Linked DNA regions of Homo sapiens: region 1 is linked to region 2. A link means that fine-mapping ties the variant in region 2 to the expression of a gene that starts in the linked region. Tissue or cell type: cerebellum. Region 2 holds a variant in brackets; the other region holds the start of a gene. All regions are shown on one strand. Distances are between the middles of the regions.

Evidence for each region. PIP is the estimated chance that this variant, and not a neighbour inherited with it, causes the effect.
Region 1: it holds the start of CACNA1B, and the variant in region 2 is fine-mapped to the expression of CACNA1B in cerebellum (GTEx, PIP above 0.99). The same link has a PIP of 0.9 or more in anterior cingulate cortex and cerebral cortex.

The regions. Positions count from the first base shown.
Region 1 is chr9:137,873,632-137,881,701 of GRCh38, reverse strand. CACNA1B (calcium voltage-gated channel subunit alpha1 B) reads right to left here and starts at 3,920. Exons shown (of 47, transcript NM_000718.4): 1 at 3,485-3,920; 2 at 2,543-2,648. The coding sequence starts at 3,768. CACNA1B-AS2 (CACNA1B antisense RNA 2) reads left to right here. Exons shown (of 4, transcript NR_121583.1): 3 at 6,022-6,239. RefSeq lists enhancers at 42-543, 2,812-3,727, 6,962-8,070.
Region 2 is chr9:138,114,890-138,122,959 of GRCh38, reverse strand. It overlaps CACNA1B (calcium voltage-gated channel subunit alpha1 B), which reads right to left. Exons shown (of 47, transcript NM_000718.4): 42 at 7,281-7,408; 43 at 4,879-5,014; 44 at 4,192-4,308; 45 at 2,588-2,795; 46 at 2,079-2,329; 47 at 1-1,491. The coding sequence ends at 961. Among named protein-coding and RNA genes, the nearest start is that of FAM157B, 98 kb to the left of the region's middle. The variant C/G (reference allele first, on the strand shown) is at 3,272.

The sequences.
Region 1 (8,070 bases), 240 kb after region 2:
GCACACGCGTGGGGCTGGCAGGGAAAGGCCCTGTGCAAGGCAAGCCCGGGAAGCTGGGCTGAGGGAGCTGCATGTGCAGGGTTGGCATGGGGGTGTCGGACACCTGCACTCCAGGGCTGCTGCCTTAGGAAGCAGGTGAAGGGGTGGGGAGAGGAGACCAGCTTCAAGGGCCTCCCCTGAGGGTTCGTCTTCAGGACTGTGGAAGTCACAGGAAGAAGCAGCTGCTGGGCTGCCACAGAGCTGCCAGGTGAGGTGAGTGCCACCAGTTCCACAGCCTGTGCCTTCCTCCCCAGGAAGCCAGGCTCTCGAGGGCTCTCCGCATCTGACTCCCACCTTACTCAGCCTGGGCTCCTCCTGTCCTGTGGTGGAGCTGGCCCAAGGCTTGGCTGGCAGTACCTGGTAGAAGCTACCAGCACCCAAGGGTCCATCATGACCCGTGCTGACTCGCCCATGCTCTTCCTGGCCTCGAGCCTTCTGGTCTGATTTGTTTAGGAGGGACCCCTTTTCCCAAGGGGTGGGGTTGCTGACCATCTGCCCCAGGGGAACAGTGGGGCCGCAGCAGACAGAGATCTTCACAGGAAACTTCCTGGTGAAAAAGAGAACAGGCCCGACGCCTAGGAAGGACCAGCCAGCACCCTCAGCTGGGAAGGAGCCCCCAGCCCGAGCCCTCTCCTCACAGCTCTGCCCTGCCCAGCCCATGGCTGAAGGCTGGCTTAGGTGGGAGGGATGGGTGTGCAGGCAGCTTGGTGTTGCACTGCAAGCTGGGGCCTGGCTCGAGGTAGCTCCAGAGTCGACGGGGAGGTGGGAAACAGCCCCGAGAGGCAGGGAACCAGGGAGGCCTCGCCCAGGGCCAGGCTGGGAGACAACTGAGGGGCTGCCCCTGCACCACCCAGCCTCGGCCTGCTCTGTGGGCAGCAGCACAGCCTCCCCTCCATCCCAGGGGACATCAATGGCTGGGCCTGCACATGGGACTGGGACTGGTCAAGAGCTCCCCAGACCTCTAGGCTGGCTCAGGGCGGGCATGTTCTGCAGTTTTCCCAACAGGTTAGCTCGCCACTCCTAGAAGTGTCCTCCCCAACCTATGACCACAAAGTAAACCCTCCCACACCTGCGAGGCAGGAACTTGCAAGGCTGGACACCCACTGCCTGGCAGGGCAAGACAGCTTGATCCTCCCTGCCCCCGCCCCGGCCTGGCTCCTGGGCCTGCGTCCCTCTGACCCTGGCCCTGCCCTCCTTCCTGTGACTTGGCATTCAAGGCTCTCTGCCTGTTTCCTCTCAAGCTCACCCTCTTCTCCAGCCTCCAGAAAGCAATGGGCCCCACCAGGGTCCTGCCCAAGTCCCCCACAGGGACCATGACTCACGCCTGCCTCATGGTGTGGCTGGGCTGTCCATGCTCCTCCTCCTCACCCGGCCGTAACCCAGACCACTGGGCATTCCAGACTGTGCTCCATTAAGACCTCCTCACCTCGGCCACCCATAACTCACCTCCTGGTGCCTCACCTCCAGGACAGGCTCCCTGTCTCCCCTTCTGCACTCCTGGGCCTGCGGTGGCCCAGGTTCAAAGGGAGTTCAGTTTCAGGGCTAAAGTCTGAATAGCTCTTGTCTCAGGATGCTAGTGGGGGCGGAAGCCAGGCTTAAGGGAAGAGGGAGCAGCTCCTGACACCCCAGAGAGGCCGTCTCCTGGACGCCTCTGGCCCCGCACCCCCTGGGCCCCCACTTGCTCTGCCTTCTGCTCACCTGGAGGCTCCAGTCTTTAGGCACACTCGGAACCCAGACATGGGGCCAGGCATCAGGGAAGAGTGGGGGCTGGGGGACATGCTCTGACCTCAGAAACTGCTCACCTCCAAAATGCTGCCCTTCCTCTGACCCAGCCCCTCCAGAGACCCCACAGGGCTGGCCTTCCACCTTGCCTCCTGTTGAGCCACGGAGACCTTGCCCTGGCACCCTGACTCACACAGACTCTATGCTCCAATGGGGGCTACCACGGGGGCCTCTTGGCTGGAATCTGGGGACAGGTAAAAATGATTCAGAATGTTTGAGAAGGAATGCTTCCCACAGGATGGTGAGGCCCACTGGAGAAGAGGTTCCAAGCAGGCCCGCACAAGACAACTTGGAGGATGAGGCTCAGGGTTCCCACATCCAGGCCAAAGCCCATCTCAGCCCAGCAGGGCACACATGGCATTCAGAGCTGACCTTCCCGAAGACATGAATGCCCCTTCCCCACCCCAAGTTTAGAACATGGTTTTCTGGATCAAAGTCTAGCGCCGAAAGCCAGGACAGCCATTGAGGTGCAGGAGTAGCTCGTGGCACAGGGCAGACTGGCCCAGGGCTAACGTGGCCACGCCCAGGGCTAAGCCGGTGACCCCAGCTGCCCTGGCCCTCGAGGAAGGTGTTATCTGCCAGGCCTACCTTTTCCTTCAGACGCGAGGGGCACTGCCCAGACGACCCTGCCCGAGGAAGCTGTTCTCAGGCACAGACCATAAAGGAAAGTGGAGTCGCGGCCTCCCCACCACCCTGCCCTCAGGCCCAGCCGGGCACTCACCAGCCGCTCGGACATGGGCGTTTTGTCCCCATCAGGGAGGTGCTGCTCCAGGGCCAGCACGATGCAGTTGGCGATGATGGTGGCCAGGATCATATACTCGAATGGAGTGCGTGAGTTAAGGACTGGCCGGCAGACGCCGCACGGAGGGAAACACGAGGCCGACGCCAGCAGAGCCCAGTGCAGCAGCCACCGCTAGGCCGTCTCCGGAGGGGCTGAGACAACTGGGTCCGGAGCCCCTCTCCTGGCGGAAGCGGCCTGGTCTCCCTCACTCCCTGCCCCCATCCCTAGGGGCGGCCGCGAGGCGGGGCCTCCGCAGTCTGGGCCGCCAGCCCCTCGGCACACCCGGGCGGCCGTCAGCACCGCGGACAGCGCCTCCGGCCCGGCTCCGCCCGACTCCAGGGCCCCGAGGGGAGGGGGCCGAGCGCCCCCAGGCGAGGCTGGAGGGAGACCCCGCGCAGGCGCACGCTGCTCCCTCCAGACACGCAGCCACATGTACCTACACAGGCACGTGAACATGCATGTAGCCCGCATCGCGAGCGCACGCACGCGCAGCGCCAGGCTCCAGCTCAGCCCGCACACGCAGGCACCTGCAGCCAGGCGCGCGCACGGCCGCGTCCCCACAGCGCTCGCACCTGCACGGACGCGGCTTCGCCCTCGGTGCCCTCCAGGCTAGCCGCGCACTGTGCACCGACCAGGATCCCCAGGACCCGGCGTGCGGAGGGACGAGTCCGGAGCAGAGGGGCTCCGCCCCGCGCCCGCCGCACTCACGGAAATGCTCCCGCACCCGCCGCTCCGAGGGGCCCTGGGGCGCTCCGTACCCCCCTCGCCCGTCTCCCGACGCCTCCCCAGGTCGCGCCCTCCCGGCCACCGGGAAGATGGCCCCGGCCCCGGCCCCCACCCCGGTCCCCGCCCGGCCCCGCCCGGCCCCGCCCGGCAGGATATGGCCACTCGGTGATGCGCTTCGCGTATTTGCGGACGACGTTGTCCTCGCTGAAGACGAAGAGCGAGCGGTTGACGGTGAAGCAGTTCTGCTTGACCGGGATGGGGTTGTACAGCGCCATGGTCCGCGCGCGCTGCGCGATCGATTGCTTGTAGAGGACCCGCTGGCCGGGCTGCAGCCCCCCGGGACCCGGGCCCCCCGCCCCGCCGGCCCCGCCGCCCCGGGCCCGCTCTCCGCCGCCGGGGCCCCCATAGCGGCCGCCCAGCTCGTCCCCGAAGCGGACCATGGCTCCCGGGCCCCGCGTGCATCCCCGGCCCAGCGGCCCCGGCAGGGAGGGCGCGGGGCGCGCCAGGCGCTCAGAGCGGAGCAGCCACGGAGCCGCCGGGACCGCAGCGGACCTCGCCCGGCCCCACCGCCGCAGCCGCCGCCGCCTCACCCGACTCCGCGGCCCCGCGCCACGCCCTATAAGGGGCCGGTCACGTGGCGGGGCCCGGCCAATCCGCGCCGGCCCCGCCCACCCTGCCGCGCCGGCCCCGCCCCGCGGCCGCCCCCGCCCCGCCCCGGCCCCTCCGGCTGCGCCTCCCTCGCCCCGCGCCTCCCACCCCGGGGCTGGGCCGGGCCCAGGAGCGGACGAGCCTGTGGGTCCTCGACGGCCGCTCAGCGCCAGCCCGGGCCGTCCCCGGAGCCCACTCTGCCGGCCGCACCGCCCCTGGGTGCCCTCGGCTCCTCAAACTCGGCCCAGACGGACCCCTCGCTCCGCCCGGAGGCGCCACCAGCCCTGGGGCTGCAGCCCAGAGCTGGGCGCCAGGCCTGGGCCGGCCCGCCCCGTCCCCGCCGGGTCCCCGGCCTTCCCAACCCTCCGGGTGCGCTCGGCTCGCGGCCTTGGTGCCACGCGGACGCTTCTGTCGGGGGCCCCCAGCCCGGGTGCGGGACCTGCTGTTTCCACGCACGGGGCTGGCTCCGGGATCTCAGCTCAGAGAAGCCTCTGACCGCCTTGCAGGCCACGCCCCGTTAGGGAACCTGTCACGGTCACTGCCATTCCCCAGGCCTCCTTGAGCGCCCACCGCGGGCCGGGCCTGTCCTGGGCTCCCAGCTCTGCCCTCACGGAGCTGACCGTTTTGTACAAAGCACAGCAACCATTTACACAGCGCTCACTTCGTGCAGGCCCGTGGGTCCTCACAACCTCCAAAAAGGCGGCCCCGGGGTCGGGGAGACCTTCGGGAACAAGGGACCCTCTCGGACCTGAAGCTCGCTCGCAAGGCGCTGAGTGCAGAGTGAGGCCGGGTGCGGGCTGCGCCTTCTGAGAGGGAGGCAGTCCGCACAGTTCCGAGCAGAGGCGCGTAGGCCTCTGAAGGGTCCCTCGGGCTGCCGTGTGGAGTGTGGACTGCAGGAGGCTGGGGTGCTGAATCACTTAGGATGCATTCAGAGGCGAACAACCCGCTTCCCAGCTAGCAGCAGCTTGCACGATGCCATTGTGATCTCACTGAATACGAAGCCACCATCTCTCCTCCCTCCAAAATCCCCACATACACTTTCTGCCTTCCTGCCTGTTGCCTCATGCCCCAGGGTGGCTGTCATAGCACAGGGCATCACACCGCTACACCAGCATCTCAAACGGGAAGGAAGTGGCAGGTGTACAAAGGATGACCACTTTGTGAATCAGGTTACGATTTTCTTTTCTAACAAAGGAAAAGCTTCTCAGAGGCTCCCCCTGCAAGTGTCTCTTTAACCCCGTTAGGCCATGGGCCATGTGGCCGGCCCTGACTTTAACAGGGTGGGAAAGTGAACATGTGTCAAAGTGGACCAGGATGGCCAGCCCCCACTAGGCGAGCACATAGTTGCCCCAAACAAAATCAGGGTTCGCTTAGCTGGGAAGCAGGTGCTAAGGCTGTCGGGGAGGCTGCCAACTGGCCTGTCACAGAGAAAAATCAGAGCCCAGGGAGGGGTTTTGACAGCAGCACAGAGAGAGATGATGTGGTTTGAACATGGGGGCCATGAGCAGTGCCTCTTTCTCTTAGAGAGAGTGCGTCCAGTGTAAATGTGAAGGAGAGATAGAAACACAGGCTCTTCATTTTTGGTCTGAGTGACTGAGTCGAGGGGGATGCCCTTTGCCGAGATGGGGAAGACAGAGGGAAGAGCTTGTTAGTCACAGGGTGGAAATTAAGAATTGCCTACTGGGGACAGAAGTGGAGATGCTATGCAGGGGTGGAGTTTCTCGAGGGATGCCAAGACGAGAGGCCACTGCTGCAGCCCTGCGCCTGGAGGCTGGGCTCGCCACATCTGCTCTGCCCTTCCCTCCGTGCTGCGTGACGCTGGAGCTGGCCTTTGAAAGCCACATCAGCCTGTTCCTTGACCTGTGGTTTCTGGTTATGCTAGCCCAACAGGAGCACCAAAGGCCCTTGAGGGAAGGAAAGAGCAAGGCCAAGGTGTCTACTATTCCCCTGACTTCCTCCTGCCAGGTCACCGAGGGTTGGCTGTGCACCTCAATTGAAGCTCCGGCCCTGTCAGGCACCCACCACTCTCCTTTCTCTCTCTCCAGTTCCAGTTCCTGCGTCCTCCCCTTGTTCCTGCCAGCGGGGGATGGCATCACGCAGGCATGGTGAATCCTGGCCCTTGGGACTTCCCTGCGCCTTGCACAGATCGCACAGATTGTGGTAGATGGTCCCTTGCAAGTGTCATCCTGCCTGATGCATCACCACCGAGGAAGCGACCGAAGTCAGAGACAGAGGATGCTGCCACTCCCCAAGAATGAAGCCGGTGAGGAGGAGCAGCCAGGGCTGTGGGGGGTCGGGGGAGTGCCCTGTCCCGGAGCTGAGGGAGGAGTGCGTGTAGTCCATAGAGATGAGGACCGACATTCAGCCATCAGAGTGGAAAGACAGAGGTGCCCATCACCCGGACAGCAGTTTCCACAGAGGAGCAGCCCGAGTGGGGCGGATTGAAGAGAATGAGTTGTGAGGAAGTCCCTACAGCGGGTGTAGACAGCTCGTTCAGTGAGGAAGTCCCTACAGCAGGTATAGACAGCTCATTCAGTGAGGAAGTGCCTACAGCAGGTGTAGACAGCTCGTTCAGTGAGGAAGTCCCTACAGCAGGTATAGACAGCTCGGTCAGTGAGGAAGTGTCTATAGCGGGTGTAGACAGCTCGGTCAGTGAGGCAGTGCCTACTGTGGGTGTAGACAGCTTGTTCAGTTAGGAAGTCCCTATAGCGGGTGTAGACAGCTCGGTCAGTGAGGCAGTGCCTACTGCGGGTGTAGACAGCTTGTTCAGTTAGGAAGTCCCTACAGCAGGTGTAGACAGCTTGGTCGGTGAGGAAGTCCCTACAGCAGGTGTAGACAGCTCGGTCGGTGAGGAAGTCCCTACAGCAGGTGTAGACAGCTCGTTCAGTGAGGAAGTGCCTACAGCAGGTGTAGACAGCTCGTCCAGTGAGGAAGTGCCTACAGCAGGTGTAGACAGCTCGTCCAGTGAGGAAGTGCCTACAGCAGGTGTAGACAGCTCGGTCGGTGAGGAAGTGCCTACAGCAGGTGTAGACAGCTCGGTCGGTGAGGAAGTCCCTACAGCAGGTGTAGACAGCTCGGTCGGTGAGGAAGTCCCTACAGCAGGTGTAGACAGCTCGGTCGGTGAGGAAGTCCCTACAGCAGGTGTAGACAGCTCGGTCGGTGAGGAAGTCCCTACAGCAGGTGTAGACAGCTCGGTCGGTGAGGAAGTCCCTACAGCAGGTGTAGACAGCTCGGTCGGTGAGGAAGTCCCTACAGCAGGTGTAGACAGCTCGGTCGGTGAGGAAGTCCCTACAGCAGGTGTAGACAGCTCGGTCGGTGAGGAAGTCCCTACAGGAGGTGTAGACAGCTCGGTTGGTGAGGAAATCCCTACAGCAGGTGTAGACAGCTCGTTCGGTGAGGAAGTCCCTACAGCAGGTGTAGACAGCTTGTCCAGTGAGACAGGGAACAACACAGATGCAGCATTAAGGAGTTTTTTGTTTGTTTGTTTTTTAAGGTAGGGGATATTATTGGACTTCGTATGTGATGGCAATGACTCAACAGAAAGAAAAATTGCTGATGCAAGAAAAAGAGTGTCTTGCCTCGTCCAGGCAAGAGGGCATCAGACTTGGGACAGCTCACTCGAGGCAGGGAAAGAAAAGCGGGTCGCACGATTGCAGGCACAGGTGGGCTGGAGGATTCATTTGGGGGAGGATGAGGGTTTTATTGTGATTATTCTACTTTCTCAGTGAAACAAGAAACAAAACAAGCAACTGAGAGTGAGAAGGGGGCATTTGCAGGTTGGCGAGGGAGGAGAGGGTTTGAAATGCTCATCCAGGGCTATAGGGAAGAGAATCCACAAGAGAAATGTGTAGAGTTGACAAGTCTGGAGCTGGGGGTGACTAAGTCCAGGACAGGCTGCGTGGTGGGCACTGCTGCAGTGTCTAAGCCAACGACCAGCGAGCTTGTCACCCCTCGAGGGTCCCATCTTCCTCCGGACCCTCCAGCACACTTGCTCACAGCCCCTCCCCCATCCCTCTCCAACCTCAGAGTCCTTCTGCTGCCCCCTGTCCCCCACCCCCATCCCTCACTCCCTCACCCTCTTTCTCACCTGGCAG
Region 2 (8,070 bases):
CCAGTGCTCTCCACTGGCAAGGGCTTGCTACCTGGCTGCCATCGCGAGTACTTTTCACAGCATCCTGCGGTGATGGATCCCGAGGCCTCGCCTCACACCACAGTGCCCAGGAGCCTGGGTGTGAGGGCCTGGCGGTCAGGCACTTGGTCAAGAGCAGCAGAGCCAGGGGCCGTCTACGTCCACCTGGACCGGACAGGGCTGCACAGGGAGTCTCCTCGCATAAGCCACAAAGACACGTGGCAAAAAGCTGACATCTTTCTTTCACAGGTTTGATTTTTTAAAGTTATGTGAACATTTCCTTCCCCATTTTTCTGGTTTTCCATTTTTTCTACATCACGTATATAGAAGTGACAAGAATGAGAGGTGTTGCAATTAAAAATCACAACCACAGCAAGAACACTTCCCAGCTCGGTTCCTGTGGGGCTGACGGTGTCCAGGGAGGACAGAGCTTGCCTGAGTGAGCATTCGCTGACACTGGCGGGCTGCACAAGCCACGACTGTGTCCCCCTCCCCATCCCCTCCGTCCCGAGGTCTCGGCGCACTTTCAGGTGGGCCCTGCTTCTCTGTGCCGCACGGCCACGTGAAGGGTGCTCCCCACAGGACGCAGAGCTCCTCACAACGGCTCCAAGCACCCATGCTGGATGCTGAGTCCCAGGACACGGGATTTGGACTCCTGGGTCCTTCTCAGCCACACACAGCAGCCTGCGGTTTAGGGTCTGGTGTGTGGTACGAGACCCAGGAAGGCAGGACAGGAAGGGGACAGAGAGAGCCGCATCCTCTAACAGGGCTTTATTCGTCGTCTAGAGTAAAAGAGGGGAGGAGGGGGAGGGAGGGGCCACAGGAGCCTCACCAAGGTGGGCAAGGCCTCCCCCGAGGGCCGGCTGCCCCGTGTGGATGATAAAACTCATCCACTGGAACACACGCCTGCTGCATGCAGGCGTCTGAGCGGTCACGGTGCAGCTAGCACCAGTGGTCTTGGTCAGGGTGGTGGTAGCTGTGCCGTGCTCGGCCACCCGAGCTGAGTCCCAGGGTGCAGTGGTAACCGTTGGGCACGCGGCGGAGAGGGTGAGACTGGGAGGTCAGGGAGGACACGTAGGAAGTCCTGGAGGAGCGGCCCGAGTTGGTGGCCACAGCCTCCTCGAAAGTGAGAGTGTCCTCAGGCAGGGCGTGGACAGAGGCCTCACTGTCCAGACGCTGCCCCAGGTAAGGGTCAGAGCCAATTCGAGAGCCAGGGGCCAGGGGCTGGCTGAGGGGGTCTCTCTGCAGCAGGGCGTTGTGTTCGGAAAGCCCACGGCTGAGCCGGCCTGGGGAGAAGGCAGGGAGGCTGGTCTGAGCCCCGGCGAAGTGGATGGGTGAGGAGTTGGCCGTCTTGTAGGTGATGCTGGGGCGGGGAGTCAGGGGCGTCTGGGGGAGCTGCCTCCGCCCACCGCGGCCGGGGGTGCTAGCACCAGATGTTGACAGCAAGGGGCTCCCATTCACGGAACCACTGCCCTACATGAAAATGGACCAGAACAAATCAGAGGTAAAAAAAAAAAAAAAAAAGCCGAACCAACAGACAGAGCACATCACACACAGGTGCCTGGGGGGATGGGAGGAGAGAGGGAGGCAATGGGGGACAACGGGCTGCGGTGACCAGGGAGGCAACAGGCACCTGTGTGCGGGGGAGGGCGATGGTCAGGGTCAGGCCCAGGAATGGGGTTGGGGAGAGCAGGTGATGGGAAGGGACAGGCTGGGGCCAGGGAAAAGGACAGAACAAAAGCCCAACGACCACAGTCAGGGAAGGAGAGTTAAGTGACCGAGAGAGAGGTAAGTATTTGGGGGCCCAGGTCCGAAAGTGGATAGGACGCAGAACCACTGTCCCAGGGTGACCCAGGCAGGAGCTTGATGAGAACACAGCTGGGGTAGGCTGCAGACGTGGGCTCCGGGACAGGGCACAGAGGGGAGCGCCCGGCCCTTGGGTTGCTGGGAATGACAAAGGGCAGCAGCGAGGCCCTGGGGAGAGGCAGGAGCCTGTGGGACAGGGGTGCTGGGCCGAGGAGAGGCAGCTGGGCCCTGACCTCTCCACCTATTCCTCTTACCTGTGGGTGGGGTCCCGGCTCCTGGCCAGCTGTTGGCGACGTTGGGTGGCTGCTGAGGGAGGGCTTGGGCTTCGGGGGCTCACGGCCCCCAAAGCGGTCGCAGGAGTAGAAGCGCTGCTTCTCCGAGGAGGAGGATGAGGGCTGCCTCCGCTCCTGGGACCGGCCCCGCTCCTGCCGGCGCTCTCGTTCCCGCCGGCAGCCTGTAGGCCCCTCTCCCGGGGGCAGCCCCGGCCCCACAGCACTGCTTGGTGCTGGCCAGGGAAGAGAAGAAGTTAGCACGGCCAGGCCCAAGGCAGGGACCCCTGACCCCCGGGCCCAGCAGGACAGAATTCAGGTGGTGCCAGGGGAGGCTAGGGTGAGGGTTAGGGCCTGGGCCTCAGTCCCACCCTGCTCTGGCTGGTTATGGGGTCACGAGGCCCACAAAGGAAGAGGGTCCCCCATGGGCCGCTTGGACCCCCTGACTCGGGCCATAGCTCCCCGAAGGACTCCCCGGGCCCCTCCGCACGCACCGCCATCCATATCGGCAGACAGGCTGGGCCCCTTCTCCAGGGACCTCTGCTTCCTGTCCCTGCGGCGGTGGCAGCGGTGGTGGTGGTGGTGCGACGACGCCTGGCTAGGGGGTGGGCGGTCCGGGGTGGTGCTGCAAAGATGAGTCCCACGGGGCCGCTGGGCCAGCGTGGAGATGGAGCGCTTCATGGGGCTGGCATCTGTGACGGGCTGTGGGCAAAGGACTGAGAGTGGGCCTAGGGGAGGCACCAGGGTCAGCGGGAATGCAGGCATGGAAGTGGGTGGTGGAGCAGGCCAGACAGCAGGCCCACACGCCCCCCATCCTGGTCTCACAGTCAGAAGGACCCAGGCCTGAAATGGTAGCCCAGGAGGGCAGGCTGGGGGCAGACAGTGCCTGAGTCCCCGCCCCATCCCATGTGTCGTGCCAGGAAGAGAGAGGTGGCTGGCTTGGTTGGAAGAACCCTGAGTGGAAACCAGAGACGCCTCTGCTGGCTGCAATGGGATCACTCTGCCTGGTGCGTCTGGGGTGGACTGGCTCCCGAGCTGCTTCCACGGCCAGAATCAGGACCCGTGAAGACACCTGGGACGGGTAGGCCCTCCCAGGTAAACTCACCCACAGCCGCCAATGCATCACGTGTGTGAAGGAGGAGGCCCCAGCACAGGCTGCAGGGAGGCTCAGCCTGCAC[C/G]CACCCACCAGGCAGCACCCAGGAGGGTACCACTGGGCGGGGAAAGAGACAAGAGAGGAAGGACAGGTGGGAAGAGGAGAAAACCCTAAGAGGGAGGAGAGGCAGTGAGGAGAGGAAAAGGGTTTGCTGGCCACAGCAGTGGGATGGGAGACGAGCCACGGACGAGGTTCAGATCCACAGCTCCACAGCCCAGGTCGGCCGAGGGACAGGGCTGGCACGGGGGCTCCGGTCACTTTTGGCCAACTGAAGCAGGCTCATGTTGCAGGTGAGGCCCTGCAGCTCCTCCGAGGCCTCGGAGGCCGGGGCACAGTGTTCCCAGATTGGCCTCGGAGGGGCGATCCTCCCAGTGTCCTTGTGGAAGGAGCCTCCCCCGGGAAACACATGGGGCCAGAGCTTCCTCTTCCTGAATCCAGTGTGCATGTCCCAGAAAGAGGCGAGCCCAGCAAGGAGCTGGGTAGAAAAGTAGTCCAGGGACTGCCCATGAGCAGGGAGGGTCCTCCGCAGAACCACGGGCGGGAGAGGGGACTGAGGTGTCGGTGAAATTTTCTGGATGAGAGTGGGGGTTGTCTCAGGGAGTAGAGCCCCGGAAAGGAGGAACAGAACGTGGCTGAGCCAGAGTGGGGGCCCCTATGCCCCATGGCCCCTAATAGGAGGCTGAGAACAGGCACAGCTGTCCTCTACCGGACCTGACCCACCCTCTGGAGAAGCCTCAGGGGCTGAAGGCGTCCAGGCTGCACCTCTGTCGGCGCCCAGACAGGACTGCCCGGGGTGCCTGCTCCTGCCTCAGCAAAGAGCTCCACACATGGACCCCAGCCTCTCTACCCCAGCTCTCCTCACCTGCAGGAGGCCCAGAGCCACAGCCCCACTTCCCCACCCCCCACTTGCCCAGCCCAGGGCCTGGACCCTCCCAGACCACCTACCTGAGTCTCGGCCGCAAGGCGGGGCATGGAGGCCGCTCGACCCTGGCTCTCCAGCCCAGGCTGGGGCTCCCCATCAGGGCCCCTCCGGGTTATGCTCTGCATCTGAACGTCCACAGCCTGTGGATACAGCACTCACCTAGTCCCACCACACAAGGCACCGCGGACTCATCTGATCCCACCCCGGACTCACTCCATGAGGCACTGGGGTCTCACCCAAATCCATCTCAGTCTCACCTAACTCCCACTGCTGTTCACACGTCCCCCACCCCAGTCTCACACACCCCCCATCCCTGTTCACATATCCCCCACCCCAGTCTCACACGTCCCCCACCCTGGTCTCACACATCCCCCACCCAAGTCTCACATGTCCCCCACCCTAGTCTCACATGTTCCCCACCCCAGTCTCACACGTCCCCCACCCCAGTCTCAAAATCCCCCATCCCAGTCTCACACACCCCCCATCCCTGTTCACACATCCCCCACCCCAGTCTCACACGTCCCCCACCCTGGTCTCACACATCCCCCACCCCAGTCTCACACGTCCCCCACCCAAGTCTCACATGTTCCCCACCCCAGTCTCAAAATCCCCCATCCCTGTTCACACGTCCCCCACCCCAGTCTCAAACATCCCCCATCCCTGTTCACACATCCCCCAACCCAGTCTCACTAGCCCCCGGGAGTGCTCACCAGTGCTCCTGACCGCCCCACAGGGATCTCTGTGGAGTGGCCACGCTCCAGGGGTGGCCTGGCCTCATGGGGTGCATCCTGGGTCCTTTGAGTGCCCCAGGAGACAGACTCTTTGATGCCACTCTCTTGGTTTTGTCTGTGGCAGAGAAGACAAACAGATTCCTGTAGGGTCAGAGACTGCAGGTGCCTTACCAATAGCCTGGTGCTTCAACCTGCCAGGCGTCTCCAACACATGCAGCAGAGGTCAGGGGGTTTGGCCACCCTGTTCTGGACTGAATTGAGCCCTCCTTTGGGCACAAGAGCCCCAACGTGGCCTGTGCACGCTGGACCCAGGCAAAGCCTCATCAAAGGACATGGATCCAAAACAGGGTCAGAGCAAGAAGGGATTCAGAGTGGCAGAGAGGATGCAGAGCACCAGCTTACAGCCCACAGTGCTCAAGTCTGAGGGGGGCCTGGGTCCGTCACCCGCTCCTCTGGACAAGAGGCTGATCTGTGAAGTGGGAGCAGGGGTTGTCCTTGCCACACAGGACTATCCTGGGAAGGAGTGGGGCCGCATGTGTACAGCCTGCATTAGGACAGTAGCTGAAGAAGTCCTGCCTATGCCAGCAGACAGCAAGAGAAGCTGTCATGGAGAGGACAGGCTGGGACAGATGAGGGCAAAGCTGTCATGGAGGGGACGGGCTGGGACGGGGGGTAGGGGGCCTCGCCCGGGACTCTTTGGGCTTCCTCCTCTAGGGGCTTCCTCCCTCAGGGGTCCCTTGCTGGTGGCTCCTCCTTACTTCTCTGACCCCCCCCCCAAGCCACAATGAGCCCTTCCATCCCTCGGCTCTCTGCTGGGGTGCAGCCTTCTGGCGGAGGCCACCCCACACATGCTCCCCATACGCCTGCCCCAACAGCCCCACCCGGAGATACTTCCGCACTGGTATTTCTCATCACTTATCTCCCAACTGGCGTGGAATGTGTTCGGGTGAGTGCTCATTCTCACATTCAGTGAAACACTGAAGACTACGTTCTTAGTCATGCAGGTTGAGTGGCACTGATCACTCTGAGCTCAGACTGGAGCCTGATAGTCTAAATGGACCACACCCTGACCACAGCAGTGGACGCAGAGATGGCAGAAGGACACACTGGTGGTTGCTGGGGCTTCTGAGAAGCCCCATCCTTTGTCTTCTGAGAGTTGCAAGCAGCTCTCCTTCCATGCTGTCTGGGGCACTGCAGCCCCTGCTGGCACCAGGCACAGAGCGGCCGCAGTGGCAGGCTGGTGCTGAGAGGAGGGGTGGTTAGGAGAACCGGAGCTGGCTCCTAATGCACCGCTAACCCTGAAATAACACCACGTCCAAGGCCAGAGGTGTGCTCAACCCGCTCACTAAATGGCTCAATAAATACCCTCACCAGACCCAGTCTGAGTGGGTGCTCTCTGACTTGGAGTTGTAATTGATTTAGGTAGAAACTACCATCACAGAAATAACAGAAGCTCAATTTCCTGCTGAAAGCCTGGCTTAGATAAACCCCAGACACCTCACTATCTCCTCCCACCTGCACATACAGTCAGAATCAGGACTTTAAATGCAAGGAAGGTTTTCAACAGCATGCTGAAAGCAGTGTGGGAATGGGGGGCTGCCAGCGGCTCGGGAGTCAGCCCCCAGGATCTGGGTCCTGAGATTTGGGAGCACACTTTTCTGGGCCACAGTGGGAAAAAGTGATGGTTCTTGTAAGTCACCTGCTTCTGGGTGATTTGTTACCCGGAAATATTGTGGCAAGAGTTAAGTGATACAAAAGAACCTTACCAATTTCTTTACAAAATATAACAGCTTCAGAAATCAGTACCAAAGTGGAGATCTGAGAGGAAAAGTGCCTTACGGGGTTAGAAAGATCAGAGCAGTAGAAGGCCATTGACAGAAAGGGGTGGGAGATGGAGGTGGAATCTCAGCGTCTGCTGGCACGGAGGGCCGATGAGGAGCAGGGGCAGGGGCCTCTTGTCTGAAAGGGAAGCAGGTGCGTGTGTTGGGAATGGGACGTGGTGGTCTAAGTGCTGTTAGGAAGGCGGGTTCGATGAAGCACCTGTCTAATGTCACAGGAAACGATTTTAAAGTCTGCCACAGAAACCCAGCAAAGGAAGAGCCCTTGACTGCTCTCAGGCAGCAAGTACAACAAGCATCTGTAGCAAAGCCAGCCCCTGAGAACTGAGATGTGGCCTAGGGGCTCTCTGTCCTTGGAGGGTTGCTAAGGGCCCAAGTGCAGGGTCGGATGGCAGACACGCCCCTCAGGTGCCTCCAAGCTGGTGAACCCAGAGGCCAGTGGAAGTGAGGGCCAGGGAGGTTGAGGAAATGGGATGTCTGCTTCCCCCTTTACTGTCTTTGGACCTCCTCCTGTCCAGCTATGTCCTGCATCTGGATACTCACATGGCCCCGCCATTGCTGAGGGAGGTGGAACTCTTCTGTCGAAGGAAAACCCGGGCTCCTCGGAGCACAGCCGGCTGTGTCTGCTCCAGGGTGGCCTTCAGAGGGTGGAACAGGGACACAGGACCCATCTGCAAAGGAGGCAAAGGGAAGGGAAAGAGCTCCAATGGGCCTGCAATGTGGCCTCTGTGACCTGCTCTGACCATGTGGCATGGGGCAAAAGCCAGGTCATGTTCAAGCCCAGCCTAAGGGCTCTTTCCCCTTAGCAAGGGGCCGCTTACTTTCCCTGATATGTCCCTAAATATGAGCATGTGACCAAAACAGTGAAGCAAGCCAGGGGACCCTTACAGCATCTCCTCAAAACCTTGCCTGTCAGTGACTTCAGGAAAGCCATGTCACCTCTCAAAACCTCAGTTTCCCTGTCTACACAACTAGGGGATTGGACCAGATTACAGGTGGCAACAATATTCCATCTAATCATCACCTTGAATTGGCTGGTAGGAGTTAGGGTTAGGGTTGGGCTGAGCAAAATTCCGAGATTTCAGGGCTGGGGAAGACTGCTGCATGGATTAGTGATGTCTACCCCAGGTGTGAGAATGGAAGGTGTGGCCTGAGCACCACATATTCTCCATCTGAGGACTAGGTCAATGTCCCCAGAAGCCCTGGACATCTAGACAATTTTCCAGCAGACAGACTACATATGGTCACCGAAGACACGGCTGTGTGGGAAGGACGACATCGGGAAGATGGGTCCCCAAATCATCTCAGTCAAAGGCAAGAGCAGAACAGACAA